Linked DNA regions of Homo sapiens: region 2 is linked to region 1. A link means that fine-mapping ties the variant in region 1 to the expression of a gene that starts in the linked region. Tissue or cell type: whole blood. Region 1 holds a variant in brackets; the other region holds the start of a gene. All regions are shown on one strand. Distances are between the middles of the regions. Region 1 has its middle 38 kb from the start of NFKBIZ. Region 2 holds the start of NFKBIZ (NFKB inhibitor zeta).

Region 1 (16,078 bases):
AAAAAGCTTAATTTTTGTCTTTGGTTGGGTGCAGTGGCTCAGGCCTGTAATCACAGCACTTTGGGAGGCTGAGGAAGGCAGATTGCCTAAGCTTAGGAGTTTGAGACAAGCCTGGGCAACATGGCAAAACCCCATCTCTACAAAAAATACAAAAATTATCTGGGCATGGTGGCATGCGCCTGTGATCCCAGCTACTTGGGGGCTGAGACAGGAGGGTTGCTTGGGCCCAGGTGGTTGAGGCTGCAGTGAGCTCTGTTCATGCCACTTCACTCTGGCTTATGTGAAAAAGTGAGACCCTGTCTAAAAAAAAATTAAAATAAAAATTAAAAAACAAATTTTTTCTTTATCTGTTTCCTGCTGCTATAACAGAATATCACAGACTGGGTAATTTATAAAGAACAAAAGTTTATTTAACTCATGGTTCTGAAGGCTGGTAAGTCCAAAAACATGGTGTCTGGTAAGGGTCATCTCATGGTGAAAGGGAAGAAGACAGAAGTAATTACATTAGACAGAGAGGCATCAAAGGCTGGACTCACTTTATAACAACCTGCTTTGTGATAACTAACTCTCTCTTTTAATAATGACATTAATCCATTGGTTGGAGCCCTCTCATTAAGCCCTACCTCCCTCTCAACACTGTTGCATTGGGTATTAAGTTTCCAACACATGAACTTTTGAGGGAAACTTCAAACTATAGCAACTTTTTTCAGAAACAACTTTTTCTCTGCTTCTGACTTCCACCGAATAAAGAAAAAAAATCTCGTGTTCCAAATATTAGAGAGAGAGTCTGTAAAATTTGAGGGCATGTTGTTAGGTCTTAATTTGGGCACAGAATTTTCTGTTGAGACAGAGCAATAATACACTGCAGAACTGAGTTTAGGGTATAGCAACTCAATACCAGGAAGGAGCTCAGAGAAGCTAAAGAATGAGTGTTTAGCATCTCTTTTTGGCTGTATTTCTCACATAACATTTTTCCCATATGGGCTTTAATAAGTTTTCCATAGAAGACAATCCAAAACTATGTTTACTAATGAGTTCATAATGTTCATACCTGATTGAAAGTATTGGGCTGAAACACCTGTCATGTAGACAGTTAAGGAAAGTAGAGTCCAGTTTATGCTCTTACCCAGGAGTATGGCCTTAAACATAGAATAGGCTAAGAAAATCTACAGGTAAATAAGACTTTTCTCTACAAAGCAACTTTGGATATGTCTCCAAGACACTAACAAGTATGGTGAAGCTCTAAATTTCTGCACCTACAGCGTTAAGAGATACACCTGGCCTGAAGGATTTTTAGGATAGAAGTTAGTTTCCATCTGTACCTGCCAGTTAAGAACTTTCATGTGGATCCTGTGGAGCTATTAATTTGAAGCAGAATTGAATCTCCATGGCTCCGATGGGTGATGCTGGTCCCAAAATACACAGCACCACCCCTGAAATATAACTATACTTATCTATCTGTTTAATAAAGCTCTATTAAACAAGAGTACATTCTAAAAATGGCATGCTTGACACCAAGCTGTTTCTCCTGATAGAAACCAACCATTCAGTGAAGGACCATGTCATCAGCAAAGAGAATAATAGATACCTTCCTGTTTGCTATGGCAAAAGACATAGCATCCGTTTTATCTAAAAATGCTGACCCAAATATTATGAGTTAAAAATAAAGAACTGAGTACAGCCACATTTAATGCTACTTAAAATTGGAATTTACCATGAAGAGCCACTGTATTTTACAGCAGGGACAGTGGCGGAGTCACGGGAGAAAAATAAAAAGCCTTGGACTTAATAAGACCCTACAATATTGCTCTAAATACTTACTGCAAAAATCTTAAAACGCTCTTAATCTCAACAACAAAAAACCTGACTTTAAAAATAAGCAAATGACTTGAATAGACATTTCTTCAAAGAAGATATACTAATAGCCAATAAGCGCAGGAAAAGAAGTTTAATATCACTAAGCATCAGACAAATGTTCATCAAAACCCCAAGATGCTGCCCATTAGGATGGCTACTATCAAAAAATAGAAAAGTGTTGGTGTGGCTGTGAAGAAATTGAAACCCTTGTGTACTGCTGGTAGGAATGTAAAATGGTGCAACCACTGTAGAAAACAGTATGGCAGTTCCTTAAAAAATTAAAAAGTGTTAGGCCAGGCGCAGTGGCTCACGCCTGTAATCCCAGCACTATGGGAGGCCAAGGTGGGCGGCTCACGAGGTCAGGAGATCGAGACCATCCTGGCTAACACGGTGAAACCCCATCTCTACTAAAAACACAAAAAATTAGCCGGGCGTGGTGGCAGGCGCCTGTAGTCCCAGCTACTTGGGAGGCTGAGGCAGGAGAATGGCATGAACCCGGGAGGCGGAGCTTGCAGTGAGCCGAGATAGCATCACTGCACTCCAGCCTGGGCGAGAGTGAGACTCCGTCTCAAAAAAAAAAAAAAAATATTAAAAAATATTACCATACGATCCAGCAATTCCAGCTCTGGGTAGACACCCAAAAGAATTAGCAGAAACTCATACAGATACTTATACATCCACGTTCATAGCAGCATTATTCATAATAGCCAAAAGGTAGGAAGCAACCCAAGTGTTCATCAACAGATGAATGGATAAACAAAATATGGCATATACATCCAATGGAATATTATTCACCTTTAAAAAGGAAGAAGATTCTGACACATGCTACAACATGGAAGAACCTTAAGGACATTATGCTAAGTGAAATCATCCAGTCACAAAAAGACAAATACTGTATAATTCCACTCATATATGGCACCAAGAATCATCAAATTAATACAGACAGAAAGTACATGGTGGCTGCCAGGAGCTAGGGGGAGGGAGAAATTGGGAGTTGTCTAATGGATACAAAGTTTCGGTTTTACAGATGAAAAGAATTCTGGAGATTGGTTGCATACACACACACAAAGTGTGCTACTTATGTATTCATGTAAGGAAAAAAGTGAATATACTTAACACTTCTGAACTGTACACTGAAAAGTGGTTAGGATGGTAAATTTTATGTGCATTTTACCACAATTAAAGATTCTTTAGTGTTCTCAATTTCTCCATTAGATGAATCTTCATGCCAACCAGAAACTGCTGAACTGAGTCCAAAGACTGCCTGATTCTAGCAGGATGTTAAACCAAGTAAGCCAGACCTGTGGCTCATTGAAAGGAAAATCAATATGAAGTTGCCCTTTGGTAGCTGTTGCATACTATATTTTGAATTCATCTTTGATAGCCTTCATCACACCTTTCCCAGGCTTGAGCTTGGAGAAGTGAAGAACAGAAACAGCAAGATGAAGATGAAAGATCACTGGCCCAGAAACCCGGCCCTTCATTATTTATTCATACTCACCATTGAATTTGGTCTTTTATTTTTGAGAAGGCTAGAAATGTTTCGAATGGTATATAATGACTTCCAATACCCTTTATTTATCAGCAAGTCTTGTGGAAGGAAAAGAGCCCTCTGATTACCTATCAATAGTGATACATTATCAGACTTTCAGCATTTATAACAAAAGGCAAAGACACTTAAGGACAGCAGCAGTGGTGGCCAATCAAAGGCGGAGATTCTGACACAATGGAAGGAAAGAAGGAACAATGAACAGACAGAAAACAGAAGGGCTCTGCAGTCTGCAGGAGGCAGGCGAATGCATGAGTGGAGGTAAGGAGTGATGTGAGATGGAGAAAGCCACACAGAGGGAACCAACTGTCTCCCATACTGCCCGCACCTCAGTTCCCAGCAGACATAGCACCTGTCCCCTCTTCTGTGTGTCAGGAGGGAGTGAGAAATGAGGGTGTGCTCAGCTGTGGCCTCATTCTATCTCAATGGTTCCAGAGACCTCAGAGGGCAATGGCTTTACTAAGAAACCCTGCAAATGATCTTACCTCCACTTTACAGTGAATTAGAGGCCATGAGGCAAACAGGTCCTCACATTCCTACCCATGCCCCTGCCTAAACATTTTGCATCCACACCAGGGACTGCTTCTTCCTCTCTGTTACAATGACAGTGAAGTCTCTTCTTTCTTCCTGTCCAAGGCTACTACTTCCATTCCTGTACATTTTCAGGAGCCATGTTACTCCCTCTAGCCTCCTATATTTTCATCCATTCCCTCTCCTTAGCATATACATATATTATACATATATGTATACATATACATGTGTTATACATATATTATACATATATGTATACATATACATGTGTTATACATATATTATACATATGTATACATATACATGTGTTATACATATACATATGTATGCATATACATGTGTTATACATATATTATACATATGTATGCATATACATGTGTTATACATATAGTATACATATATGTGTGCATATACATGTTATACATATATTATACATATATGTGTGCGTATACATATGTTATACATATGTGTGCATATACATATGTTATACATATATGTGTGTGTATACATATGTTATACATATTGTGTGCATATACATGTTATACATATGTGTGTGCATATACATGTTATGCATGTGTGTGCATATACATGTTATACATGTGTGTATATACATATGTTATACATATATGTGTGCATATACATGTGTTATACATATATGTGTGCGTATACGTTATACATATATGTGTGCATATACATGTTATACATATATGTGTGCATGTACATATGTTATACATATATGTGTGCATATACATATGTTATACATATATTATGCATATATGTATACATATACATATGTTATACATATATTATACATATACGTATACATATACATATGTTATACATATATGTATACATATACATATGTTATACGTATACGTATACGTATATTATTTATATATATACACACACACACACACACACTCAGATCTAACCCATTATTGAATAAATACAAAATAAAAAAATTAAAATTCCTGAATCCTGTATCCCTTTTGTTAAAGTTTATGGGAGGCTATTGTTTTGGGCTAGCCTCCTGCACTAGGCCCTGGCAGGCCAGACCAAACCAGAATGAGGTCACTTGTACTAAGTGCCACATAATCAAAGTGAACTTTGAAATGAGCTCATTTTCTAAAAATTAGGAGATTCCAGTCAACCTGAGTCAGTGTAATAAGGAAGTCCCCTCTGTTTTAACCCTATAAGGAAAGTCACTTTGAAACAACCAATCTATTTTTTGTTGTTCATTTCCACTTTCTTCAGCCATTTTCTGCCCATAAAGCCAACCTCCTCTGCTCAGCAAATTGGAACCCTCAGAATGAGGTGTTGCTGATTCTAGAATTGCAAATAAAGCCAATTCAATTTTTAAACTAAATTTATTGTAATTCTGTCTTTTGACATCTTTTAAGACTTTCTGTTGCTTCTCAGCTAGAATTCTAAAATTACTTTTTTTTTTTTCCTTTTTTGAGACAAAGTCCCACTCTGTCACCCAGGCTGGAGTGCAGTGGCACGATCTTAGCTCATTGCAACCTCTGCCTCCTGGGTTCAAGTGATTCTCCTGCCTCAACCTCCTGAGTAGCTGGGATTACAGGCAGGCACCACCATGCCTGACTAATTTTTGTAATTTTAGTAGAGACTTGGTTTCACCACAATGGTCAGGCTGGTGTCGAACTCCTGACCTCGTGATTCGACCGCCTCAGTCTCCCAAAGTGCTGGGATTATAGGCGTGAGCCACTGCGCCTGGCCAGAATTCTGAAAATTTTAGTCCACACTTATCTCTGTTTCCTTATCTCCTCAGCCAAGTGAAATCTCACTGCAGCTGATCTCACTAAGGTCACCAATAATCCACCTGTTGTACAATATGGAGACATTTCAAGTTATTGCATTGTAGGACCAGACCACTTTGACCAGGCCATACTCCTTAAAACGTCTTCTTCCTCCTTTGCTGTCCTTGACTCTGTTCTCTGTTGGTTTTCCTCCTTCCTCAGACTAAGCCCTGTTCAGACTCCAGCAGCTATCATCAGTTCCTCTCCCTGAGGGCCCATATCATCTCTAGTCACAAAATATAGCAATGTGGCACAATGTTAAAACTGAGTAAACCCCCGGGCGCAGTGGCTCACGCCTGTAATCCCAGCTCTTTGGGAGGCAGAGGTGGGTGGATCACCTGAGGTCAGGAGTTTGAGACCAGCCTGGCCAACATGGTGAAACCCTGTCTCTACTAAAAATAAAAAATTAGCCAGGTGTGGTGGCATGCGCCTATAGTCCCAGCTACTCAGGAGGCCGAGGCAGGAGAATTGCTTGAACCTGAGAGACGGTGGTTGTAGTGAGCTGAGATTACGCCATTGCACTCCACCCTGGGCAACAGAGTGAGACTTTGTCTCAAAAAAAAAAAAAAAAGCCTGAGAAAACCTCTAGCAAGACTTTCATAGACTGGTTTATTCAATGCAGTGATGCTGAACCCTGACTGCCCATTAAGTTCACGGAGAACTTTTACAGGGATATAAATACCCCACTTGGTAGTATTTCTGATTTAACTGGTCTTTGGTAAGCCCCAGAT[A/G]ACAGTATTTTCTGAAAGCTTCTCAGTTGAGTGTTAGTGCTCACCAATAACCTTGTCACTCCATGCTGGGACTATAAGGACAGGAAATTTGCAAAATTCATAATTATCATTTTTAGAACTTAACCCTTTAGTTGGATTTTAGGATTCTGAGACAGGGTTTTTTCTTATCTTTTTTATTTTGTCTTTTAGAAACAGAGCCTCACTCTGTGGCTCAGGCTGGAGTGCAATGGTACAGTAATGGCTCACTGCAGACTCAAACTCCCGGGCTCAAGCAATCATCCCACCTCAGGTTTCCAAGATGCTAGGACTAAGGCATAATTTTATGTTTTATAGAGACTGTCTCACTATGTAGTTCATATTGGTCTCAAACTCTCTTGGCCTCACGCAATGCTCCCACCTCGGCCTCGCAGAGTGCTGGGATTACAGACATGAGCCTCAAGCTCGAAGTTTTAAATGTCTCCTTAAAAGTTTACATTAGAAGGTTGTTTAAAATTGGCTCATCTTTGGTCATGCCAGATCTGCAATTACCACAGATTTCTCTCACCTTCACTCAGCCAGAAGCCCATAGAGACCAACCAAGTCATAAATTTTATTGAATGAACACGTGGCCCTGTTGGCTGCAAACACTGGAAATTTTTGTCTTCCTCTCCCTGCAGAGTTTGCCAGGATTCTTGGGAGTGCCTTCCAAGAACCAACAGGCCCTAACCCAGAGGCACTGGCCTTCCCTTCTGCTTCTGCCTTGAAGGTGCAGAGTCTGTTGTGTGCCTGCCTTGCTAGAGAAATTCTGCCTGTTACTGTTTACGAGGGAGGCGTCTCTCACAGGGATGGCATGACCAGAGAAACATATTCACACAGAAGCAGTTTTATTTGTTTCGTGTGTTTAATTATTTGACTGTGGTTGTGGTTTTGGGGGCTTTAGGATGAAAGGGTGGGGAAGGAGTTGGCCAAAGGGGCCTGGAGGATAGGAGCAAAACAACCATAAAAAGCTGTGAGACCCAACCACACTAAGAAACAATTCCAACTGCCTGGCCCACCTTTTCCTCCCATCTTTTGCCATACACATTCACCCACCTACTCACTCATTTTAGAGAGGGAGGAAGAAAGGCCACAAAAAGAGACAATACTTCAAAACTGCATCTTCAATTGCAACCAAACTGTTGTTGCTAAGTCACCTTATAACAAAGGGATGAAGTCTCAAAGATCTGACCCTTTAGTGATTGTGGAAGATTCTGGAAATCTCATGTTGCCAGGAGATAAGAAATTGGATATTCCCTATCCACTAGGTTCTTCTCAGCAAAGCTGCAGAGTCTTACCAGGAAAAACAACAACAAAAAGAATTCCCTTCAAATTTCAAGTCAGGAAAACTCAGGCCTTAATCCGAAGCTCAGGATAGTATAGTGTAGAGTGCTCCAAATTGGGAATGACTTAAGAACTACATTTATGCTACTCTTAGTAAAGACCAGATTCTCCATATTTTACTTATTGGAAGAGCAGGCTAAAGGGAAGGAGGGACAGAGCAACAGTTTGCAAAGGACAGCAAATGCAGTCAATCAAAAAAGTGATGATGGCAAAACATGTGGCACTGGTCCTAGCTTTTGCTGCATTGGTTGCTGTGCTTGTGATTTTAGTGTCATTGTTTGTTCCGCTACTCTACTACAAGGAAATGGTAAAAGTTATTTCATGTAGGAGAGTAGAATTCTGAGTGGTGGGTGACCATTATGAGAAGCAGATTTCAGTTCTGGCTGTCAGAGGGGCTGCTTGGAAAGGCAATGAGATGCCTATGCTATATATATTCATGGTCATCAGGGAAACCACTGCTTAGGATTGTAGGGGAAAATCAAATCAGAGGCACTGGTCTTCAAGATGCCTCTTGGACTAGAGAGTCAATGATTGCAGCAACAGATTACTGAAACTCTCTTTCTACCTCCAGTGATTAACAAATCTACTTCATCTAAATTTTGCTTCCTCATTCCTATTTAACCTTTTAAAATAAAATAAGTTCATGGCAAATTTTAATAATCTATTAAATACTCAGCACAGGGATAGGTTTTCTAAATAATAGAGGAAAATTTACTGTGCTAGAGAGCAAAATGAGAAAGAAAGCTAAAGAAATAGAAAAGTAGGCTGGGCGCAATGGTTCACACATGTAATCCCAACACTTTGGGAGGCCGAGGTGAGAGGATCCCTTGAGGCCAGGAGTTCAAGACCCTAGGCAACATAGTAAGACTCCATCTCTACAAAAAAATAATAATAATTAGCCAGGGGTGGGTGCACGCACCTGCATTCCCAGCTACTCAGGAGGCTGAGGCAGAAGGATTGCTCGAGCCCAGGAGTTTGAGGTTACAGTGAGCTATGATTGAACCGCTGCTCTCCAGCCTAGGCAACAGAGCAAGACCCTGTCACCAAAAAAAAAAAAAAAAAAAAAAAAAAAAATTACATTAAATTAAATTTAAAAAAAGAAGAAACAGGAAAACAATTGAAAAATCAGAAAATTCCAGAACCCCTTGAAAATCTTCCTCTCTCCCTAATGAAGACCATGGGGCCTCCTTGTCTGTAAAGAACCATGACTGTCCCAGCATTCTGCTTGGCTACTCCCTTGCTTGACTCATTTTCACCTAAGGGTAGAGAGGGCAAAATTACAGGGAGGTGTTTGTTGGGTTTCGGCCACACTTTTAAACTTACCTGGGTCACACTCTGTGGGCTTGGAGCCATCTGCCTCTCCTTGGTGATTAACGCAGCTCCACAGAAACCTTCTGTTCTCTGCTCCTCCTCCTACCTGGGGCAAGTACCAATGGTTTTCCGGCTAGAGATGAGAGGGAAGGCCAGTATGAAGAACACTTATCTGTGATTAAAAGGATGGCAAGAAAATGAAGACCTGGTAACTTGCTGTTAGTGGGATCAGTGTAAAGATCCCACTATCACTTTTACTCAAGGATCCCTTGAGTTAAGAATGCCCAGACCTGCAATACCATTCAGGACATAGGCATGGGCAAAGACTTCATATCTAAAACACCAAAAGCAATGGCAACACAAACCAAAATTGACAAATGGGATCTAATTAAACTAAAGAGCTTCTGCACAGCAAAAGAAACTATCATCAGAGTGAACAGGCAACCCACAGAATGGGAGAAAATTTTTGCAATCTACCCATATGACAAAGGGCTAATATCCAGACTCTACAAAGAACTTAAACAAATTTACAAGAAAAAAACAACCCCATCAAAAAGTGGGCAAATGATATGAACAGACACTTCTCAAAAGAAGACATTTATGCAGCCAATGGACATATGAAAAAATGCTCATCATCGCTGGTCATCAGAGAAATGCAAATCAAAACCACAATGAGATACCATCTCATGCCGGTTAGCATGGCGATCATTAAAAAGTCAGGAAACAACAGGTGCTGGAGAGGATGTGGAGAAATTGGAACACTTTTACACTGTTGGTGGGAGTGTAAATTAGTTCAACCATTGTGGAAGACAGGGTGGTGATTCCTCAGGGATCTATAACTAGAAATACCATTTGACCCAGCAATCCCATTACTGGGTATATACTCAAAGGATTATAAATCATGCTACTATAAAGACACATGACACATATGTTTGTTGTGGCACTATTCACAATAGCAAAGACTTGGAACCAACCCAAATGCCCATCAATGATCGACTGGATAAAGAAAATGTGGCACATATACACCATGGAATACTATGCAGCCATAAAAAAGGATGCGTTCATATCCTTTGCAGGGACATGGATGAAGCTGGAAACCATTATTCTCAGCAAAATATCACAAGGACAGAAAACCAAACACCACATGTTCTCACTCATAAGTGGGAGTTGAGCAATGAGAACACATGGATACAGGGCAGGGAACATCACACACCAGGGCCTGTTGCGGGGTAGGGGGCTGGAGGAGGGATAGCATTAGGAGAAATACCTAATGTAAATGATGAGTTGATGGGTGAAGCAAACCAACATAGCACATGTATACCTATGTAACAAACCTGCACATTGTGCATATGTACCCTAGAACTTAAAGTATAATTTAAAAAAAAAAAAAAGAACACCCAGACCTGGACAGCATTATAATGCAAACACCCTGATCAGGTCCCATGTGTTTTTCCTGGGGAAACAGGGACTTGAAATCTTGATCTTCCCAGGCTTCTGTGGACCACAACATCCTCCACACAGACTTCAGGTCTTTCTAAATTATGACCTGATCCTGGTTCTTCCTTGGCTGAGTTATTTCTGGGGATTCTTCTCTCCTACATCCCAATTTCCTTCAAAGTCAATGAGGCCCTCCAAGATCTAGCCCTTGTTCTCTCTCTCTCCCGTCTCATTTCCCACCATGCCAGGTCTCAGACTCTTGCAAATAAGTCAACACAAAATTCTGTTTCATATCTCTGTGCCTTTTGTACATATCTTTCCTCTTTCCTATGTTGGATGTACCTGACAAACCCATACTACCTGAAGGTGTGGTCAATCCTGGGATTTTCCTGAGTTAGACCCTGGGGCAATATGTAAATGAAGCCATGAGGAACAGGCAAGTTCTTGCTCATTTTTATATTGCCATGAGCAATCAACTCACATGTGTAATCAACTCCTCCAGATCTTATTTTTTTGTAGGGAATGAACAAAGCAACACGTCTCAGCCAATGTGGTTAGCCCTCTTTTGCCTAGAGGGAATATGATGGAGGGAGACTTAAGAAGGTGCTTTTCCTTAATGCCATTGAGGAGGACAGTAAAGATTACTTTCTTCTTTGAAGATTCTAGGTAGCAAAGGTCCACACTATTGTAGACCCTTATAGAGTGTGGGACATGGATCTGTTAGAGTTCTACACTAATTACCCCCTTCCTCTCCATCCTTCTTCCTACTTCTCTCCATCTCGCGTCCACCATTTCCACCAAGTTTAGTGTTTTACAGTCACTGGAGTTGGATTAAAGATTTAGCAGAAAGTAATTGTTAATTTAAATATTAATTGCTTCAACCCTTCCTACTAAGGTTACATATAGTTTTTTGATACACTGGAGAAAATATATGTCCTGATCAGGCACACAGTGCTGATATGTTTTCTTTGGAGTCATACGTAAAATGTTTTATATTACAAATTCTATCACTAATTAATTGTTTCTCATATTTGTAGAGTACATACTTTATACTTGAGCATATATTATTACATTTGATCCTTGTATCAGTTTAAAGCCTCATCAGAAATTCTGTCTATTCTGCCTATTAAATCTCTCTCAGACCTGACTCATCCTCCCTTTTTCTTTTTGCCTCTGCCTTACCTTAGGCCTTGATCAATTCTCACCTGGATTTTTATATTAGCATCCTAAACAGCCAGCCAGACCAGCTGGCATCTCGTTTTTCTTTTTCCTCTGTCTCCACTGCCTCCCTCAAAGTCCATTCTCCACTACTACATACCTTTCTAAATTACAGCCCAATCCTGTTACCTCTGTAGTTTAATTATTTTGGAGGTTCCCTTTCACCTACACAAAACCCAAACTCTTTTCCATGGTACACAAGGCTCTCCAATATCTGTTCCTTGCCTGGCTCTAATCTTGTTTCTTACCCTCTAGGCCTCAAATTTTTAGAGTTGACTGAAGACATAATGCTTTCTTATGCATTTATGCCTTTATATATCTTTCCTCTCTGGAATGCCCTTTTGATCTTTGCCTATTTGGTGACACATACTCATCCTTTGACAGAGTAATCTAGTGTCTCCTGTTCTATGAAACTGCCCCCACCACTCAAAGGCAGAACTTACTACTCTCCCCTCTAGTCACAATTTAACCCTATACTTATTTCTATAATGGTACTTATTGCACTGTTTTGAAATAATAGCTTCATTATGTTACTGTCTCCCAGTAAGCTATGAACTCCATGAAAACAAGAAATTTGTAATATTTATCTTTATATGTTTATTGCTTGCACAGCTCATTGCAGTTAATCTATAAATCATTGTTAAGTAAGTGAATGAATGGGGGAAGAAGAAAGATGAATACAGGTCTGTTATTATTATTCCCATTTAACAGGAAAATAAACTGGGCTCAGGGAGATTAGGCCTCTTGCCCAAATTCCACCTCAAGCCCATGGCTCCTGACTTCAGATCCGGGAGTCTTTTCTTCAAACCATCTTCCTCCAGCCAGATGAACACAATAATAGTATACCTGAAATCTACTTGCACTCTGGATTATTCATTTCCTATCTCTGAAACAGGGAAATAAGATCATGCCTAGGACTTACAAATCAAAATTTTGTGATCTATGACCTATATACAAGATAGATCAGTTGCCTATTGCTGCATAACAAAAAACTCCAAAATTTAGTAGCTTAAAACAAAAATCACTTATTTTGCTCATAAATCTATAGCTTGGACAGGACTCAGTGGGAACAGCTTATCTCAGCTCCATGGTTCCTCAGATGGGGCAGCTCACTGGGAGACTTAAGGATACATTTTCAAAATGGCTCCCTTGTATGGCCGGTATGCTGGTGCTGGCTGTCAATTAAGACTTCAGTCAGGACTGTGGGCCAGATTCCCCTCCACACAGTCCTTTTTGCAGGCTACTTAAGCTTCTTTACAGCATGGTGGCTGGTCCCAAGTGCCTCAAGAGAAACAGGCAGAAGCCATATTGCTTTTATGACTTAGCTTCAGGAGTAATGTAGCATCACTTCTGAATCCAGATTTGAGGGTAGGAAATATGGATCCTGCCTCTTTATGGGAAGATTTTCAAAGTCACTTTGTAGGAAGAGCTAGTGAACAAGCAATCTGCCATTATGGATCTCTCTAATGGTATGGAATCAAGAAAAAAAAAAGAAATTTGAATATAGAATATATATGCCAAACAAGTATTATCTTTAAAATATCCTTGAAAAGCTACATTCATTACTCAAAATGTCTTGGGGGGTCCCCTCTGAAATTGTCTTCAGGGCTTGGCATGGTGGCTCATGCTTACAATTTCAGCACTTTGGGAAGCCAAGGCAGGTGGATCACTTGAGCCCAGGAGTTCAAGACCAGCCTGGGCAACATAGTGAGACCTTGTCTCTAGTAAAAAAAAGAAAGAAATTGTCTTCAGGATCAATGCTAAAAACATTGAACACTTACTATATACTAATATAAGTCACTGCTAAAGGCTAGTCATACAAAACTGAAGGCACTTAAACCAAAAACTTAGTAGTTCTAGTAGCTATACTAAAAGATAGAAGTCAACACAAAGTACTATTAGAGCTCAGAGAGATTAACTTACAATTTGGAAAACAGAGAAACTGTCATTATATAGATCTCTAAAGATAAGTAGGAATTCAGCAGGAATGATGAAGGCCACATTAAAACTTCTGCAAAAAGGGGGTAATAAATATAAATCAATGGGAATAAGGAAAGGCTATTCCATAAGGAACAACGTGGGCAAAGGCATCAGGTTGGTACATATTGAAAGTCAAGTAGTTCAATGTAAGCAACCAGAGTTAATGGCACTAGCATAGGAAGTAAGTCTGTAAAGTTAGGTTGAGCTTAATTAGGGAAGGTCTTGATACTTTTATTCTGCAAAGAGGAGGCCTTGGAATCAAAAAACTTCATCCCCAGAGTTCAGATTTTAAAAGTGGACTCTGGCAGCTCTTTATAAAAGAGATTAGAACAACAAGAAATGGGAACTCCTCAGGCAGAATTGCTCAGGCCCTCTGCTCATGTTCTACCACTATTTATGTTACTCAGACTGCTCGTCTACTTCACTTGGTTTCAAATGATGTTAAGCTGTTCTCAAAAAACCAAACCCACTCTAAGGAGCAAAACTTACTACCCTGGAAGGTTTTAAAAAAACAAAACATTCGGCTGGGCGCGGTGGCTCACGCCTGTAATCCCAGCACTTTGGCAGGCCGAAGGGGGCGGATCACAAGGTCAGGAGATCAAGACCATCCTGGCTAACACAGTGAAACCCCATCTCTACTAAAAATACAAAAAAATTAGCCGGGCATGGTGGCAGGCGTAGTCCAGCTACTCGGGAGGCTGAGGCAGGGGAACAGCGTGAACCTAGGAGGCGGAGCTTACAGTGAGCCAAGATCGCACCACTGCACTCCAGCCTGGGCCACAAAGCAAGACTCCGTCTAAAAAAAACAAAACAAAACAAAACAAACAAACAAATAAAACATTCCCAAAAAGTGAAATCCCCGAAGCTGGAAAATCAGAATGTAGAAATATGCTTTCATGTGGAAAGGGGTAGGCTACATTTGGATATATAAGTTCAGGTGTGTTTGTCAAACAGTCATATTACTTTAGAATCGATAGTGGGTATGTATAAAGTGCGTATGAATCTGTGTGTACAGGTATCAACGTGCCAAGAAGAAATAAAAGAGTATGAGGACACTGCGTTAAGTGCTGCAGCTTTTGGAGTTCTTCCCTGGTAACCATGGCCTCTCACACTTCAGATAAAAAGAATATCTGTCATTTGCCAGGCACAGTGACTCACGCCTGGTATCACAGCACTTTGGGAGGCCAAGGTAGGAGGATTGCTTAAGCCCAGGAGTACAAGCCAGCCTGGGCAACATAGCAAGCCCTCCTCTCTACAAACAAAAAAATTAGCTGGGCATGGTAGTGCATGCCCGTAGCCTTGGCTATTCAGGAGGCTGAGATGGGAGGATCACTTGAGCCTGAACCCAGAATGTCAAGGCTGCAGTGAACAGTGATCACGCCACTGCACTCCAGCCTGGGTGACAAAGTGACACCCTGTCTCAAAAAAAAGAGATGGGGGTGTCCATCATTCAACCACCAACCAAAACCAGAGTAACAACTTAACTTTCAAAATAATCATCAAGCACCACAGGGTCTGCCTGCTCCTTTGTTGCCTCCTTAGCGCAATTCTACTAATATAAAGGATGAGTTTCAATCGTAGCAAATTATGCAGAAGAGAAGTAAAGATTTTATAAATGGAGTAGCATTTTAGTTAACATTATTCACGTCTGGGCTTCTGTGACAAAAAATACATATATATTTACCAATCTTTCAGGGACATTGTGAGATTTAAATCATTTATGTGGTACCATAAGTTTCAACCAAAGTGTTCAATGTGCTTTCTCTACAATTAAGTCAGCTGTATAAAACTATAGCTCATACTCTACATAGCACTTTATTACATAAAATTTGTCTCAAGCAAATTTATTATATAAAATTTTATCCAAGCAAAAGTATATAACCACAACAGGGAACTGGCAGAATCATCTTTGTTTTTTCAATCATTTTTTTTTTTTCACTAGTTGCTGAGCAAGGTTCTAGAATAATAGCCTTTCGGGAAATCTCACTAGCAAGATTGTAAACCCATGTGGATTATGAACTCCTAATTATTCAAATCATGTTTTGTTTTGGTAACTTAAACGTTCTCTTTCTGTATGAAATAATATATTTCCTTCTCCTTTTTTTGATACTCAGCAGTTTCTTAACGACCAAGACAATTTCCCTTTTCTGGCCATCCAAATATAGTCATATATACAACAACATTGGAGTCTCTACAAAGTACTGCCCTAAGTAAAGCAATACCTAGAATCATAATTTTTAAATGCAGATTAAAATATCCACTGGTCAATACAAGATTTTTCTCTGCAA
Region 2 (16,078 bases), 38 kb after region 1:
GAAACTATTCAATACTCAATGATAATATATAACCATATTTGATGAGTAAAGCATTAAATATGCTGTTTAAAACAAAATATTTCTAGGTTTGAAATTACATAAGTAATTTTTCCATTTTTTGTTCAGTATCACTTCATAGACAGAAATAATTCTAACTATTGATGTTCACTGATCTCTTACTCTGTACCCGGGACTATTGTGAGCACTCCACATGTAACAACTCATTTAATATCCACAATATTTGAAGGCTCATACATTACAAGACTAAGATTCTCTTTCCTTGGTATCTGCAGGAACCTTGGTATCTTCTCTTTCCGAACCTTAAACCATTCTGACTTACTCTAACCCTAAGTGTGTGTCACAGAATACTACCTGACCTCTAACCATTTTGAGTCTATGGATAATCCCTCAAATTTCTTAATTGCTGTTTCCAAACGAAGAGTAACTCCACAATGCTATGACAGCTACCGTGAGACACAGACACTGATAGAGTCCACCTGAAGAGCAACAGCTGGCCTTCGCCCTGCACAGCCTCATCTCCCTTTCTGTTTCAGACTGCAGTGCCAAAAAATACTTCCTCTCCCTCCTGTGCCTCTCACCTGTTCTCCCACAGGGCCATCGGGAACCAAATGCACTGGCTGTTCGTTCTCCAAGTTCCGAGTACTTGGGTCTGCTCCCTTCCTCATCAACAGGCGGACAGCATCTAATTGTGTCAACCGATACTGCAAGCTGGCAGCAACATGGAGGGCAGTGTTGCCATTGTAAGCCTGAAGACAAAGAAATGAATTATCAGACATCAGGAAGGGGGAAATTTCATGAAAGGAGCTCAAAAACTTTGAGAGGGTGTACAGAAGGCCATTCCAACTCTGGTGTACCTTTGCATTCACAAAAGACAGGCAACTGGGCAGCTCCAAAAAGAGGCGAATGAGTTCCAGATTTGCTTCTTCAGCTGCCAAATGCAGGGCTGTGCGGCCACTTTTGCGATCCTTGTCAAAGGCAAGAGGGAGGAAAAAAAAAAAAAAAAATCCAGATACTATGCCTCAGAATACACTTTTCACCCAGTCTCCTGAATGTCTGATTCAGCTTCAGAGACTCACTTTGAATGCTCCCTTCTCCAAAATGCCTTGCTTAATCCCAAGCTAAATGGAATCTTTTATTCCTCTTAAATTTCCTATTAATTTGTCTATATGCCTCTTGTCACAATGTACCTTTTTATACAGGGTGGCCATAAAATGTAGAAAAATAAATATTTTTAAATCCTATGTCATAACCTATCAGTAAACCATTTATTATGTATTCACCTACATTTCCAGATTTGGTAGCCTCCCTGTAGAGTTATATTTAGCTATATCTCTCACCTATTTTACTAGTCAGTAAGCCTCAAGGGTCCAAATGGTTTATGACTTAGGCATTTTTCCCCCATATACTCAGTGAATAAAACCAAAATTTTAAAAGAATAAACTATTTTCCAGCTTAAAAACCAGAAGATGAATTCCACATCCTACAACAATGAAGAAATCCTTACAAAAAGCACCTTTATTCTCAGTGTATGAAAATGGAAGCCAAAATGACAATATCAATTTCAAGCATTTTCTTTACCTTTCAAAGACTATTTATTTTATACCTAAATGACCTTTTGGATAATAATTCATGGATTTAAAGCAAATCAAGAAAACACATGAAATGATCTGTTAAAATCTGGGCTTCTTGGCCGGGCGCGGTGGCTCACGCCTGTAATCCCAGCACTTCGGGAGGCCGAGGCGGGCAGATCACGAGGTCAGGAGATCGAGACCATCCTGGCTAACATGGTGAAACCCCGTCTCTACTAAAAATACAAAAAATTAGCTGGGTGTGGTGGTAGGCACCTGTAGTCCCAGCTACTGGGCAGGCTGAGGCAGGAGAATCGCTTGAACCAGGGAGTCGGAGGTTGCAGTGAGCCAAGATCGCACCACTGCATTCCAGCCTGGGCGACACAGTGAGACTCTGTCTCAAAAAAAAAAAAAATTCTGGGCTTCTTAACCACCCATACATTGCTACTCACACCATTAATTTCAGAAAAAAAAGAAAGAAGTTTGAATCTGTACTTGGAAGCAAGGTCTTTTGCTATATAACCAGTTTCTCCCCTACCCCATCTTAAACCTTTTCTGTGAATTTACCTTCGCTTCCACCGCTGCTCCCATTTGAATTAGGCACTTAATGGTATCAACCAGACTCTTATTCTTCAGTAAAAGCTCCTGAACTTCAGGTGAATGAGGCTGTTGATTTCTCTGGAGTTCATGGACCACAGCATTGTGGGCTATGACTGCACAGTGAAGGGGAGTCAGGCCTAGAAGAAAAGTATAATCAAGCAGTGGTCAAGCATCCCATCAGGTCTTTTGGTCCTTCTATAATGACAAATGCTGAGGATGGCCTCTAACTTAACCTATAAATGGGCTCCACAAGAACTAGTAAGGCAATCTGAATATTGTCTCTTTTTGGGTCTAATTTTACCTACAGAATATTTTAGCTTTAATTACCTTCCTTCTTAGTATACTTAGCACCCTTAGACCTTATGGTTCCCCCTAAGTGGCTCTGAATCTAATAAAGTTTCAGTTGCTTACCATCATAGTTAGTTGCCTCAAGATCCACAAACTGATTACTTCCCACTGCTCCCTTCTGAATCGCCTGCAGATTTTAAAAACAGACATCTGTTAGCTACATAAGCTGCGCATATACCTATTAGAATCCCCAAGAAATGAATAAGTTAACTCAAAATAGATCATTGCAACAGGCAACCTATATCCGACTTCTAATATCCAACTCTATCTCTCTGGCCTTGCAATGATGGAAGCCTGGTTTGCTGCCTCTTACCTGAAGCACCTGGGAGTGGCCCTTCTCAGCACACACATGCAGAGGTGTTCTTCCCCAGCAGTCTGTGGTGTTCACCTGTGCCCCGATGTTCACCAGATCCTGCACAATGAGATGCTGATTGGCAGCCACTGCCACCTGAAAGGCACTCTGTGGATATCCAGAGGAAAAAAGATATTTTAAACATACAATGTTATCATAACAAGGAATATGAAACTAAACTATGACTGAGGGAAAAACCCACAGAGAGAAAATAAATCCTTTGAATAAGCAATCAGATACTGTAAGACAAGGAAACTAAAGTAAGCCTAGGGTGTGGCTTTATTACTCTCAGTGTTTGGTCAAACAGCTACAAAGTTAACATTAATAACTTCAAGGTTGATGGTAGCAAAAAGTCAACATCTCAAAGTTAATATTAACTAAACTCTCTTGATCTTGAGCTCTAAGATGATCTACACATAAGGCTGGTCATCATTCACTTCACCATGACCCCCTCTTTGCCATTTCAGACTCTGTCAAGGTCCTCACCTGTCCATTGTGCTCTTTAATATCCAGCATGTGAAGTGCATTCATCTTTCTTGCAAGAACATAGGAAAGTGCCCTTCTCCCTTGGGCAACAGCAATATGAAGGAACCTGGGGAACATGGAAAGGAAAGCGGGTGAATCACTTCTGATTTCACTAAGTTGTTCTTTTGAAAAAAAAAAAAAAATCTTCCTTTAGCCCCCTTTTTATATATTGGTACACTCAAATGAAACATTACAAAGCATAATTTGTCTTTTCTGCTACATTGATAATACACCCCAGTTGGAACAGGATGGGTTAGGCTATCAGAAATAAGAAAAAGAAGAATGTCAAGCACCATACTGATCAACTTAAATCTATTATTTTTAATACTCATAAAACCCCTATACAAGAGGTATTATCATTTTACACGTCAAGGAACTGAGACCTAAGGAGGTTAAATAACTTGCCCAAGGCCACAAAGACATCAGGACAGATTAAGATCAATCTACAAACCAACTCACAGTTTATCCCTAATCATGATCTAACTGTTTCTGTTCTATAGACATAGTCTACGCTGGTCTTCCAAACTCAATTAATCAAGAAGATACAGATATTTTTATCAATTTAGAACAGATTATCTGTTCAGCCAAAAAATTTTTTGAAGGAAAACCCTTTCTTGACATACTAGCTATCACTGAGTGGCGGTTTCTATCTACACCAGTCATCTTGGTTAGCCAACCACTAACTAAGGTATACCTTGTTATACCCTAGAAAAATTATATGCTCACTAGTCCAACAAGTGTGGCTTACCTAATTAAGAACATGAGATAAAAGAATACTCACGTGTCACCATCTGCATCCTTTGAAAGAAACTGGTCTTGGGAAATATTTGCCAATTTGCTTTCTTCCTGCTCCACCTGCCACTGAAAAAGTGATTTCCCTAACTGTGTGGTGTTCATTGGATTTCCCATGTTTGAGAATGGCAGTGAAGTGTTTGAAGAGTCAGAGGCCATCTCGTGCCCCACCATGGCCTCACAGGCGCTGCTGGGCATCATGCTGAAGCTGTGCAAGTGAGCATCATTTTGCTGCTGAACACTGGAGGAAGTCTGCATGGGATTAGCAATATTCTCAGATTCCCTTTGATCACCAAGAAGGGAAACTAAGCTTTGGTTTGGGCAAAACTGTGATTCTGGACCATCAAAGAGGTTTGGTTCATAAGCGGGGGACTGGGGAGGTATGGGAAAAGGACTGTATTCCAGAGTTGGTTTGTGGGTGTAGTGTGGCTGCTGCTCTACATGCTGGTTCTGTGGAGAATACTGGTACAGGGAAGCCTGGTCTATCATTTGTTGGGAGCCCCTGACTTGGAATGGTTGGCATTTCTGAGGTGGAGAAAAGACCTGCCCTCCATGGAAGTCCTGACACTGCTCTGCGGGGGAGCTCTGAGGGACCACCACGGGGTTCAGCCAGCTAACTTGAACTGTGTTCAGGGAAACGGGGCTGCATTCATTCTTAATGTTGATAATGTTCTGAAGCAGATCAGCACTGCTCTCCTGTTTGGGTTCATTGAGATGAACATCTTCCATGCTCTCCCCGGGCGTTGGTGTTTGAGGTGGTGTCTGGAAAGAAGGAAAATGCAACTTGCACACTCACTTCCTTCTAAAATTATCCCAGGAATAATTTCCAAAGGATAGTCAGAGGAAAATGGTGAGATACTTACCAAAAATTGGGAATGCAACAGAGCTGGCCTTTTGCAAGCAGGTCCATCAGACAACGAATCGGGCCCTTTCCTTTTCCCACTGTATGATACTGTGTTCTTCAATTCTGTACCCAAAGGAATACAGCCTCTGTCATCATTTTATTTTATAAATGTTACCCATAATTACACTCTATTATTTACTCCAAAGCCCTGAAAAAATTACAAATACAAGTAACTCTTACCTCTGAACTGTTCTATGTTCACACCTTGTGTCTATAAAGAAAAAAGTTTCCAATTTAGTGTATACAAAATGACTTCCTCTTAATATACATCAGTAAGTAGGCTTATCTCTACCACCCTTTATAGCTTACCATAAATCTCTGATATGGTTTTTCTATCAATATTGATTTTCTATATCAATTTTTATTCTATCTTGCGACTTCCTCATTTTCACTTTCACCTTAGCTCAACGCAGGTCAAGATGAAATTAATAAGACCATTTGATTTTTCCCTTTCTAGTTAAAATGTTCCATTTCAGTTGAGCCTCTGAACTTGCCTTCATTTATTTATTCATTGAGTTTCTCTTGCCCACCTACCAGGTGTCTGGCACTGGGCTAAGGAGGATACAACAGACCAGACAAATATGGTCTCTGTCCTATGGACTTTGTCATCTTATGAAAAATTTCAAGTGACTTACTTGATGACTGGACCTAGGTCATCATAATAACCCTGACAGACTAACCCCTCTCCCCAACTCTATACTCAAAACAGAAAAATAGATGTCACCTTAAAATCATCCACAGCTTGGCCAGAAGCCTTCTGTTTATGACTTCGGATGTGCAACAGGAGTTCCTTCACTGAGTTCTTTACCCGAACACCTTGAAAGGGGCCTCTCTGCTGCCTGCCAACCCCCATATGGGGCTCAACTGTTCAAAAGAAAACAAAACATATTCCTGGTTAAATATCTTCACAGACATAAACGTTAATAATCCCAAAAGTATAGCTGTTGCCTAATGTATAAAGTCCCCAAGCAGCACATTGCAAAACCTTTCCAACTTGCTCTGGTCAATCAATGGCCTTGTGAGTCCCGAGCTCTGCTCAAAGGTCCTAAGTTGCCTGATACCTTTCTCCACTGGGTACCCTAAGAAATTAAAGTTCATAAAAATTTGGTCAAGGATCCTCAGAGCCAATAGGTAAACCCAAATTAAGCCTCTCTATCTCTCAGCTCTAACCACCCATGAGAGTGGATCACATTTTTTTCTCAGCCCTAACCACCCATGAGAATGGATGACAGATTTTGCCATCCTGACTCTCATAGTTCTATAATTATTCTTGACTTTGGAAAAACTTTGGGGAGCAAGTGATAAATGATGCACTTTTAGCTTTTTAAACCAATGGTTTTATGTTCACATAGAAATTTTAAAGTCTATCAATTCCGCTTACCTAAGAAGGCACAAAACAACTTCTTTCAAAGATCTCTATGTACGAAAACCTGACAATTAACAACGTCTTAGATTTATGTCTTATTATTTCCTTCAATTCAACTGTGCCAAAAAAGCTGCTTAAATTCACTGAGCTTAAACACATTTCTACATATGCACACAGGATTTCCCCTCATTGACTGTTTTTGGAATTACTTACACAGGTCTTCTAAGTAAAAAGGAAATATGCTTGTTTCACTTTTAAACTTTGAAATACACTTTAGCATTTGGTATACAAGTACAGTACTCCACTTCTGATCACTATTATGTCACAACCTCTTAGTATGTGTGTTGAACACAAATTCACAAAGTCAGGAAATGAATAATTCAGCCGCTCCATCAAGTGTACAAAAATAAGATGGGGCAAGAAACAACGCATAATTTGAACATCTGTATCTATCATAAATACATGAGATAAACAGTTCAATGATAGGGTAAGTGAAACATTAGTTGGCTTTATTTTTAAGTTTAGGGATTTCAAGAGATACCAGAATTGCCAGAATCTAACACAGCATTTTTCTGGAATGACAGCAGTTCATAATCCAACGTCACAGAAAGAAAAAAATGCAGTTTCAGAAATCCCCTGTGGCTGTGTGGTAAACCAAGGGACCAGCAGAACAGTTTCAGCCAGATGAAGGCCAAGTGGGTAAGAAAAGGTCCTAAACACATATTCTTTCTGGATCTGCTACGCAGTGGTTTAAATCGCTTTTCGCATGATTTTAAATGACTTAAAATGAAAATGAGATATCACTTTTTAAAATAAATGACAACCAAAACAGGAGTGGCTAAGAGTGGGAAACACCGGAAAGAGACGTTCTTTAAAATCATGCTAATTACTCTCAACGTTCAATTATCGAGGCGTTTTTCTAGCCTACCCACAGGGGCATCCTGTTTTCCCCCAAATTATGCAACTCGGTTCACTAAGAAAGGAAACCAATTCGCAGCCCATGAAAGATAACATTACGTCTTTCTCTGCTAGATATGGCTTATCCATTTTTTTTAAGGCACACACAACAAAAACAAGACCGCAAAAATTCCGGGCAGACTTCCGAAACTCGCCAAACTAAAGGCATAACTTGAGTTGGTTTTCAGCCCGGCTTCACCTTGATAACAGCAGTTTCCTTTTCTTTGACGGTCAAGTCTTTTTACTGAAAAATTCCATAAAAACTGAGAAATAAGTCATGACCTTTAACGCTATTCCCAAACCCTTATCCTCTGCTACAGCTTTCCACTAAAATATTCACAAGAAGAAAATTACACCTACATCAGACCCCAAATCTCATCATAGTTTATTAATTATGACTCAACAAAGCTGCTTCTTAGAGAGCGAGCGATCTCCTGGTCACTCGCCCGGCAGTCAGAGCTCGGCCGAGCGGTTTCTGAAGCCCCCCCGAGGCCCGCGGGAGGGAGCCGGTTCCGCGGGCCGGCGAAGGGCGTGTAGGTCAGGCAGGCGCCCGGCCCGGGCAAGGCGGGGAGTGGTAATTGATGGCTAAGGTGCGTACGTCCTAGCTCTAAGGAGGGCGCAGGGGCCACCCTCCATCTGGGGAGTCCCGCTCCCAACCTCCTAGGCGTGCGCGCCCCGAGTACGCAGCGGTGCGGGGCCGGCGGGTACCTGGCTGGCGCTCGGCGCGGGCGCCGCCTCTCGACCGGGACTCCACGGCGCCGCAGGAGGACACCGACGAGGCAGAGGAGAAGTCGGAGGAGTCGGAGCCGGGCGAGCCGGGCGCCGAGGGGCCCAAGACCGAGCAGCTGGCGTCGCAGGCGCCCGGGGCGGCGGCGGGCGGCGACGCGCCGTAGAAGTAGCTCAGGTTGAGCGGGCTGGTCATGAGGCCGCAGCCGCCCGCCGCGTCCCGCAGCCCCTCTCCGCCGCGGCTGTCGTCCAGCAGCTTGTCCACAATCATGCTCCCAGGCTGGGCGCTCGAGGACCCCGACACCTGCGCCACCGGCTCGCTGCGCGCGGCTGCCTCCCGGGCTGGCTCAGGGAGCTGTCGGCGGGCGGACGGCGCGGGCCAGTACGGGCGCGGCGCGGGACTGCCAGGGTATTTAACGGGCCGCAGCGCTCGCCGACCTCCCCGGCGCCCGGCCCGGCCATTGGCGGTGCCCGGGCCGCCTCCCAGCCCCTCCTCCGGATGCGTCCGATTTCCAGTAAAATGTACAGGATGAGGCAATGCGCCCTCCGCCCTCCGCCCTCGCCCCGCCCGCCCGGCTCCGCCCAGACCGACCGGTTGTTTGCCTGCCCTTCACCGGGAAACCCCGACAGCGCGCGGCTTCCAGCCTCCCGCTTCCCGCCTCCCGCCTCCCGCCTCCCGCCTCCGGGACCCCGTCCCTCGCCCGGGCCATCCCTGCCCTCTAGGCCCCCGCCGGGCCTGGGCGCCCGGGGAGAGGGCGCGCGGCGCAGGGCTGGGCCTGCAGAGGGAGGCGGGAGTCAGTGGAGGGAACCGGTTGGCCTGGTTCTTGGGGACTGGCAAGTCCTGGAAGGAGCGCGCCCCGCACCCCTCTGCCTGCCCCGGCGCGGCGAGCTGTTAGCCCAGTTAAGGCATCTCTGGAAGGTTCTTAAGGGCCTGTCTCCTCCGGCGCCCCAGCGTAGCCTCCCTTCTCAAACATAGCGTTTGTCGACGGTTTTAGGCAACATCCCGAACTGAAAGAGATGTTGGAGCATTTTTATGTTCTCAAATTATCTGCTGGGACGCAAATAATGTTTTAGGTGCAGCCATGAATAAAAAGTAATGCCACACTTCTGTATCCTTCAATACTAGAACAAAGCCATCTTAGCAAAATAATACACAAACATGTAGGTGCTGTAGTATATGTAGATATAACTTTTAAAATTCTGCATAGCTTTACACTATCTGATAAACTAACACAGTAATTTTGGCCTTTCCTATCTTGAATACTTTTTTCCAATGGATTTATACAACTATTTGTTCAAGTCCAACTAGCAAAAAATGCGGGAATGATAAGGTTAAGTACACACATGCTATGTTTAAATAAACCGATTATGATTAAATAACACGAGGGATACAAAGTTCAGTGAGCCACCTAAAAGGAGAAACAACAGGTCTGGTAGAGGAAAAAGGAGGTCAGGAGGAAAATCTTTGCAGGGGTGGTGGCATTTAAGATAGGTCCTAAAGGATGGGTGGGATTGGGGCCCACAGCATTTACAGAAAGAACAAGAGCAAAGAATTAAGGAGAGGGTTCATATTAGAGTGTATAGTCCCCTTTTACGATTGTCAAGAGGAGAAGATGGCATTAAATATAAAAGATAACTTGGTGCCTTTGGGTGGAGCACCTCCAGCAGCTGAGACACTGGAATTTTATTTAATAAACATTGAGAAAACATGAATTTTAGGTAGGCAAAATTAATCTGCAAGCAGTTGAGAGAAGATGAGGAGCCCAGAGGCCATTAGGATCCACTGCAGTAGCCCAGGAGAGAAATGACTGGGCACTGGGGCAGATACAGTGGGAAAGGAGAAAGTAAATTGACAGAAAGCAGAGCTGGGCAGCATTGCTAGGGCAGAACCCACAGGTCTCGCTCTTTTGGAGGGGGGGAGAAATGAAAGGGTCCCCAGTCAGGCCATGGCTTGGAGCCACGACCAGGTGAACAGGGCCACCAGCTCCAGATCACAAGGGATCACAGAGCAGAATGTTTGGGTTTTAGGACGAAGGGGGGGACACGATGAGTTTGGATTGTTACTCAGTATTAGTAGGTGGCATAAGACCCTGGTGGGGGTAGGTCCAAAGTAAATACAGCCATACCCCACAAAATGATGTTTAAGTCAATAATGAACTCCATGTACAATGGTGGTCCTGTAAGACTGTAATACCATATTTTTACTGTTTCTTTTCTATGTTTCCATATGTTTAGATAGACAAATACCTCTGTGTTACAGTTGCCTACAGTATTCAGTACAGTAACATGCTGTGCAGGTTTATAGACCAGGAGCAATAGACTATACCACAGAGCCTAGGTGACTAGCAGGCTAGACTATCTAGGTTTGTGCAAGTGCATTCCATAATGTTCAAACAACGACAAAATCACTTAACGACACATTTCTCAGAATGTAGCATCGTTAAGCAATGCATGACTGTATTTCCTTGTTTCTCACAAGTGTATTTCCCTAAAACTTCTTGCTGCCTCTCCCTCCAACTTTTTGATAACTTTAAAAAATAAAAAAGAAAACAAATCCCTTGGTTTATCTGTGGAAAACACAAGACTTCAGTAATTGCAATTCCTTGGAAACCAAAATCATTTAAAAGATGCTCCAAATAAGATGTTGAGTGTGATGGTTAATTTGATGTGTCAATTCGACTGGATTAAGGCATGCCCAGGCAGCTGGTACAACATCATTTTGGGGTATGTCTGTGAGAGTGTTTCTGGCAGATATTTGCATTTGAATCAGTAGACAGAGTAAAGTAAGATCCCCCTTCGCCAATGCGGGCAGGCATTCTGCAATCCACTGAGGGCCAGAATAGAACAAAAAGCCTGAAGCTATCTTCTTGAGCTGGGACATCCATCCTTTCCTACCCTTAGACATCAGCACTCCTGGTTCTTGGGCCTTCAGACTCTGACTAGGACTTACACCACCAGCTCACCTGGTTCTCAGGCCTTCAGGCTTGACCTAGAACTGCATCACCAGCTCTTCTGGTTCTTCAGCTTATGGATGGCAGATGGTGGGACTTGTTGGCCTGCATAATTGTGTGAGCCAATCCTTCATAATAAATCTCTTTCTACATATTTATATGTACCCTATTGGTTCTGTTTCTCTGGAGAACCCTAATACATTAGAGTTTCTCAATAAAATCTATTTGAATTTTGTTTTCTACCCACCAATATTTTATGTATAATAAAGGATTTAAATGCCCATTCAAATAAATCCGTAGAAAGTAATTTTTTACAAAATTAATTATCCTCCTGTTTTAATTAATTATCTTCCCATTTTACATGAGATATGAAAATTCAAGCCACAAATTCATGGCCTCTGGAGAACTTAATCTAGACCAAGATGGTCAACAAAAGACTAATGTTTCAAAACGAAGTTTTCTGTGCAATGCCAAAGCAATAGTACTGTTTGACAAGACCACAACCCCCAATGCCCAGAAGCCCTCCCATACACATCAAAAACAGTTAATATCGCTACAAAAAAATTTAAATGTACTTTGCTTTATGTAAATGTTGAAATACAAATTCAGTTTGATCTATTAAGTCGAATGATAGGATGCTGCCATTGTTCTAATCAAATATGGTTGAACACTCATGCTGTGGGAGACAGCCACCATGTTACGAGGACACTGTCTGGAAAAGTCAACTGAGGCCAACAGCCAGCACCAATATGCCCGCCATGTGAGTGAGCTACTTTGAAAGTAGATTCTCCAGCTGCACATCGGGCCTTCAGATGACTGCAGCTCTGGCCAACATCTTGACTATAGTCTTACGAGACACTTTGAACCAGAACCCTCAAAAACACTCAAGAGATTTCTGATGCACAAAAACTGTATACGAAATATGGGGCCTTGAGAATTTGTCCAGTTACACTGCTCCATCGAAAGCAAAGAAGAGATTGAAATCTTCATCTAACTGACTCTGAAGCCTCATCTTTTGCTTTAAAAAACGAGATTAGAGGATTCATTTACTCCAGGCTCAGAGGTACTGTCTACATCTAAAGATACTGAAAAAGATGAAATGATACATCAGAGAGTTCTGTGACAACTCATAGAGGGGAGAAATCTAATCCAAAGCTACTGGAAGAAACTGTAAAGAAGAAATAAAAATATGAGAACGCTATCTTTCCCCAGGCTTTATAAATGTTAATAATTTACCTTATTGTATCTTATGCAATAGAACATTTTTTAGTTTTATGGTGTCAATTAACATTGTAACACTATCTTGAGACCAATAATCCAGAGTTTCAAAAAAGGAATTGAGGGCTGGGCTGGGTGCAGTGGCTCACGCCTGTAATCCCAGCAATTTGGGAGGCCATGGCAGGAAGTATTGCTTGAGCCCAGAAGTTCAAGACCAGTCTGGGCAATATAATGAGACCCCATCTCTACATAAAATAAAAAATTTAAAAATTAGCTGGGCATGGTGGCACATGCCTGTGGTCCCAGCTACTTGGGAGGCCGAAGTGGGAGGATCACTTGAGCCCAAGAAGTCAAGGCTGCAGTAGGCTATGATCATACAACTGCACTCCAGCCTGGGTGACAGAGCAAGACCTTGTCTCAAAAAAAAAAAAAAAAAGGAATTGGATTTTTTTTTTCTTTTTTTGAGACAGAGTCTCGCTCTGTCACCCAGGCTGGACTGCAGTGGCACGATCTTGGATCACCACAAGCTCCGCCTCCCGGGTTCACGCCATTCTCCTGCCTTAGCCTCCCGAGTAGCTGGGACTACAGGTGCCCGCCACCACGCCCGGCTAATTTTTTGTATTTTTAATAGAGACGGGGTTTCACCGTGTCAGCCAGGATGGTCTCAATCTCCTGATCTCATGATCCCCCACTCCTCAGCCTCCCAAAGTGCTGAGATTACAGGCGTGAGCCACCGTGCCCGGCCAGAATTGGATTTTTAAGTGTAGATGTAATGAACTTTTGAAAAGCCAAAGACAATTTGGAACAGCTTTTCAAACTTGAGATGAAAAAGCCAGTATCTTACAGGATAAGTTATTGTACTGCTTTGGCTGAAGAAATGAACATCATAGGTGAAAGACCAATAAAGCCTGGTAGAGTTTATTTTGCTGAATATTTTCTAGATGAAAAGTCAGCAAAAGAAATCACAGCACTGCCACTTTGCAACAATGCAGCAGCTCACTGAATTAAAGACTTAACTGCAAACTGGTTTTGTCTGCAAAATTGCACTTTTGCCTTAGAAATGGATAGATCTATGGACTGTCTGGACTTGCTATTTCGGTTATATTCATTTCCAGCACCGGCCAGTCATCAAAGGTGTTTTATTTTAATGCATGACAACAAACACAAGGAATGCTGAAACATTCAAAATGTACAATAACTTTTCGAATCTCATCATTTATCCTGAAACAATTGTGTTTACATTTGAAATGATGGTACAAAAGCAATGGGTATAACTAATGGTGCCTTAAAACAAATCAAGGCAGCAGCAACAAAATGAACTAGTAATCATTGTATTCTTCACCACTGTCTACTTGCAGAAAGAAAAAGAATAAAAGCCAGTTTCACCTAAAAAGTCCTGGATGAAGCAGTAACAATATTAATTGACTCTTGTATACATCATTTTAATATTTTATGTGGCAAGATGGGAAATATGCATAGAAGTTTGTGCTGCATCCTGAAATATGACAATTGTCTCAAGGAAATGCACTTGTCTATTAGCTTGAACAGTATGTCATTGCCATTTGTTCTAATCAAATACTGTTTGAGTTGTGAGCTGAACTGCCCTCTGTTTTTCATGGAACACCAATTATACTTGACTGACAAACTGTTTCAGACTCAGGTATTTGTCAGTTTTTGGTTTGGTTTGGTTTTGTGTTTTAATGAACAAAGTGAGCCTGTCATGTTAAGGAAAATAACAGTATTTGTTGCCAATAATAAAATTCAAGTTTTTCAATAAAAATTACAATTTTGGGAAACTTCTGTTGGACACCTTGAGCTTGATAGCTTCCTAGTTCTAGAAGACTTTTTTGATGAGCCCAGTGATGATGCGCTATTAACAAATGTGATTTTTTTATATTATATAATGAAATGTGGCAACATTTAGAAAATTTGCATAACTCAATTAACTAATAATTTCCAAATGAACAATGCAAGACATTATAAAATCACACATGGGTGAAAGAGCCATTCAAAGTGGCCAATGGATTTTAATGTATCAGAAGATGTGGCCAATGGATTTTAATGCATCAGAAGATAAAAAGTTCATTGATATGGTTTCAGGTTCCATCTTGCATCTCTCCTTTAAGGAACTACCACTTGTTTTGGTATAATATTAAATTAGAATATCCAAATTACCTGAAAAGACTATTAAGCTATTTCTTCCTTTACCAACTACATTTGTGTATGAGACCAGATTTTCTTTATACTTTCACCAACATAAGATATTGTGACACATGTTTCTTTTTTAAGAGACAGGGTTTCACTCTGTCACTCAGGCTGGAGTGCAATGGCATGATTATAGCTCATTGTAACCTCTAACTCCTGGGCTCAGTCTCTCCTCCCACCTCAGTCTCCCCAGTAGCTAGGACTACAGGCATGCCCCACCAGGCCTGGCTAATTTTTTTTATTTTTCATGTTTTGTAGAGATGGGGTCTGGCTGTGTTGCCTAGGCTTGTCTGGAACTCCTGGCTTCAAGTGATCCTCCCACCTCAGCCTCCCAAGTCACTAGGATTACAGGCGTAAACCCCTGCACCTGGTCAACTGCAACAAATTAAATGCAGAAGCAAATATGAAAATCTGTCTTCTGTAAAACCGGATGTTAAGAAATTTGCAAAGATGTGAAACAATACTGTTTGCATGAAGTTTTTTTTTTTTTTTTTTTTTTTTTTTTAGAAAATACAGTTTTTAAAAATAAATTAGTAAGTACAGATTTAAATAATTTTTAGGGATCGAATGTAGGCAATGTCCTATCAGTCAACTCAAAAGTTCCAGATTGGACTCATAATTGTTGAACACCTGGTTCTGAAACCCTCCTCTCTTCTCCATCTCTAATTTCCACTATCCAAGACAGGCCTTTATCTCTTACTTGATGCAAATGATCACCCATCCAGCCTTGCCCACTTAAAACCCATCCTCCAGACTGCCATCGGCATACCAATGGAATGCTGGAATGCCAGGAATTCTTCTAAGAATTCCTCCACACCAGGGGTGTTCAATCTTTTGGCTTCCCTGGGCCACACTGGAAGAAGAATTGTCTTGGGCCACACATAAAATACACTAACACTAATGGCAGCTGAAGAGCTAAAAAAAAAAAAAAAAGAAAAGAAAAGAAAATGAAAAAAGAAAAAGAAAAAACATCACAAAAGAATCTCATAATGTTTTAAGAGAGTTTATGAATTTGTGTTGGGCCACATTCAAAGCCATCCTGGGCCACATGCAGCCCATGGGCCACAGGTTGGACAAGCTTGCTCTACACTATTTAAAAATCCTTCAGTGGCTCTCTACTGCTTTTAGCATGGAGTCCAGTCTTCTTAGAATGACAGATGTCCAAGTCCTGCCTTCCTCACAAGCTTCATCTTCCTCATTACCTTCAGTAACACGAAACTGAGTATAGTTTCCCACAGCTCTGAGACTTTGCTCTTGCTGTTCTTCTCTCCTCTTCCTCAACCAAAATCTCATGCTCACTTAATACCCAACACTCACTCAAGACTCACTTAATATCCAACACTTCTGGAGCCTTTCCTGACCCTCCCTTCCTCCCCTGACCCCAACTCTCAACCCCACTTCTGGACTAAGGGCCTTTCCTCTCAGTCCCCACACAGACTTCTATCATAGCTCTTAGGATGTGCTAAAATTAACCATTTATGAGTCTGTCTCCTCTATTCCACTATAAGCTCCCAAGACATGTATCCCTTGTCAATAGCCAAGTAC

The links. PIP is the estimated chance that this variant, and not a neighbour inherited with it, causes the effect.
Region 2: NFKBIZ starts here. The variant in region 1 is fine-mapped to the expression of NFKBIZ in whole blood (TOPMed, PIP above 0.99).

What each region holds. Positions count from the first base shown.
Region 1 is chr3:101,879,922-101,895,999 of GRCh38, reverse strand. No RefSeq gene overlaps it. Among named protein-coding and RNA genes, the nearest start is that of NFKBIZ, 38 kb to the right of the region's middle. The variant A/G (reference allele first, on the strand shown) is at 6,486.
Region 2 is chr3:101,841,981-101,858,058 of GRCh38, reverse strand. It overlaps NFKBIZ (NFKB inhibitor zeta), which reads right to left and starts at 8,545. Exons shown (of 12, transcript NM_031419.4): 1 at 8,142-8,545; 2 at 5,835-5,974; 3 at 5,291-5,321; 4 at 5,070-5,173; 5 at 4,196-4,968; 6 at 3,376-3,481; 7 at 2,851-2,997; 8 at 2,601-2,664; 9 at 2,157-2,326; 10 at 876-986; 11 at 600-767. The coding sequence starts at 8,430. RefSeq lists silencers at 8,647-8,818, 7,867-9,066, 15,140-15,434 and enhancers at 8,560-8,854, 8,649-9,486, 10,945-11,074.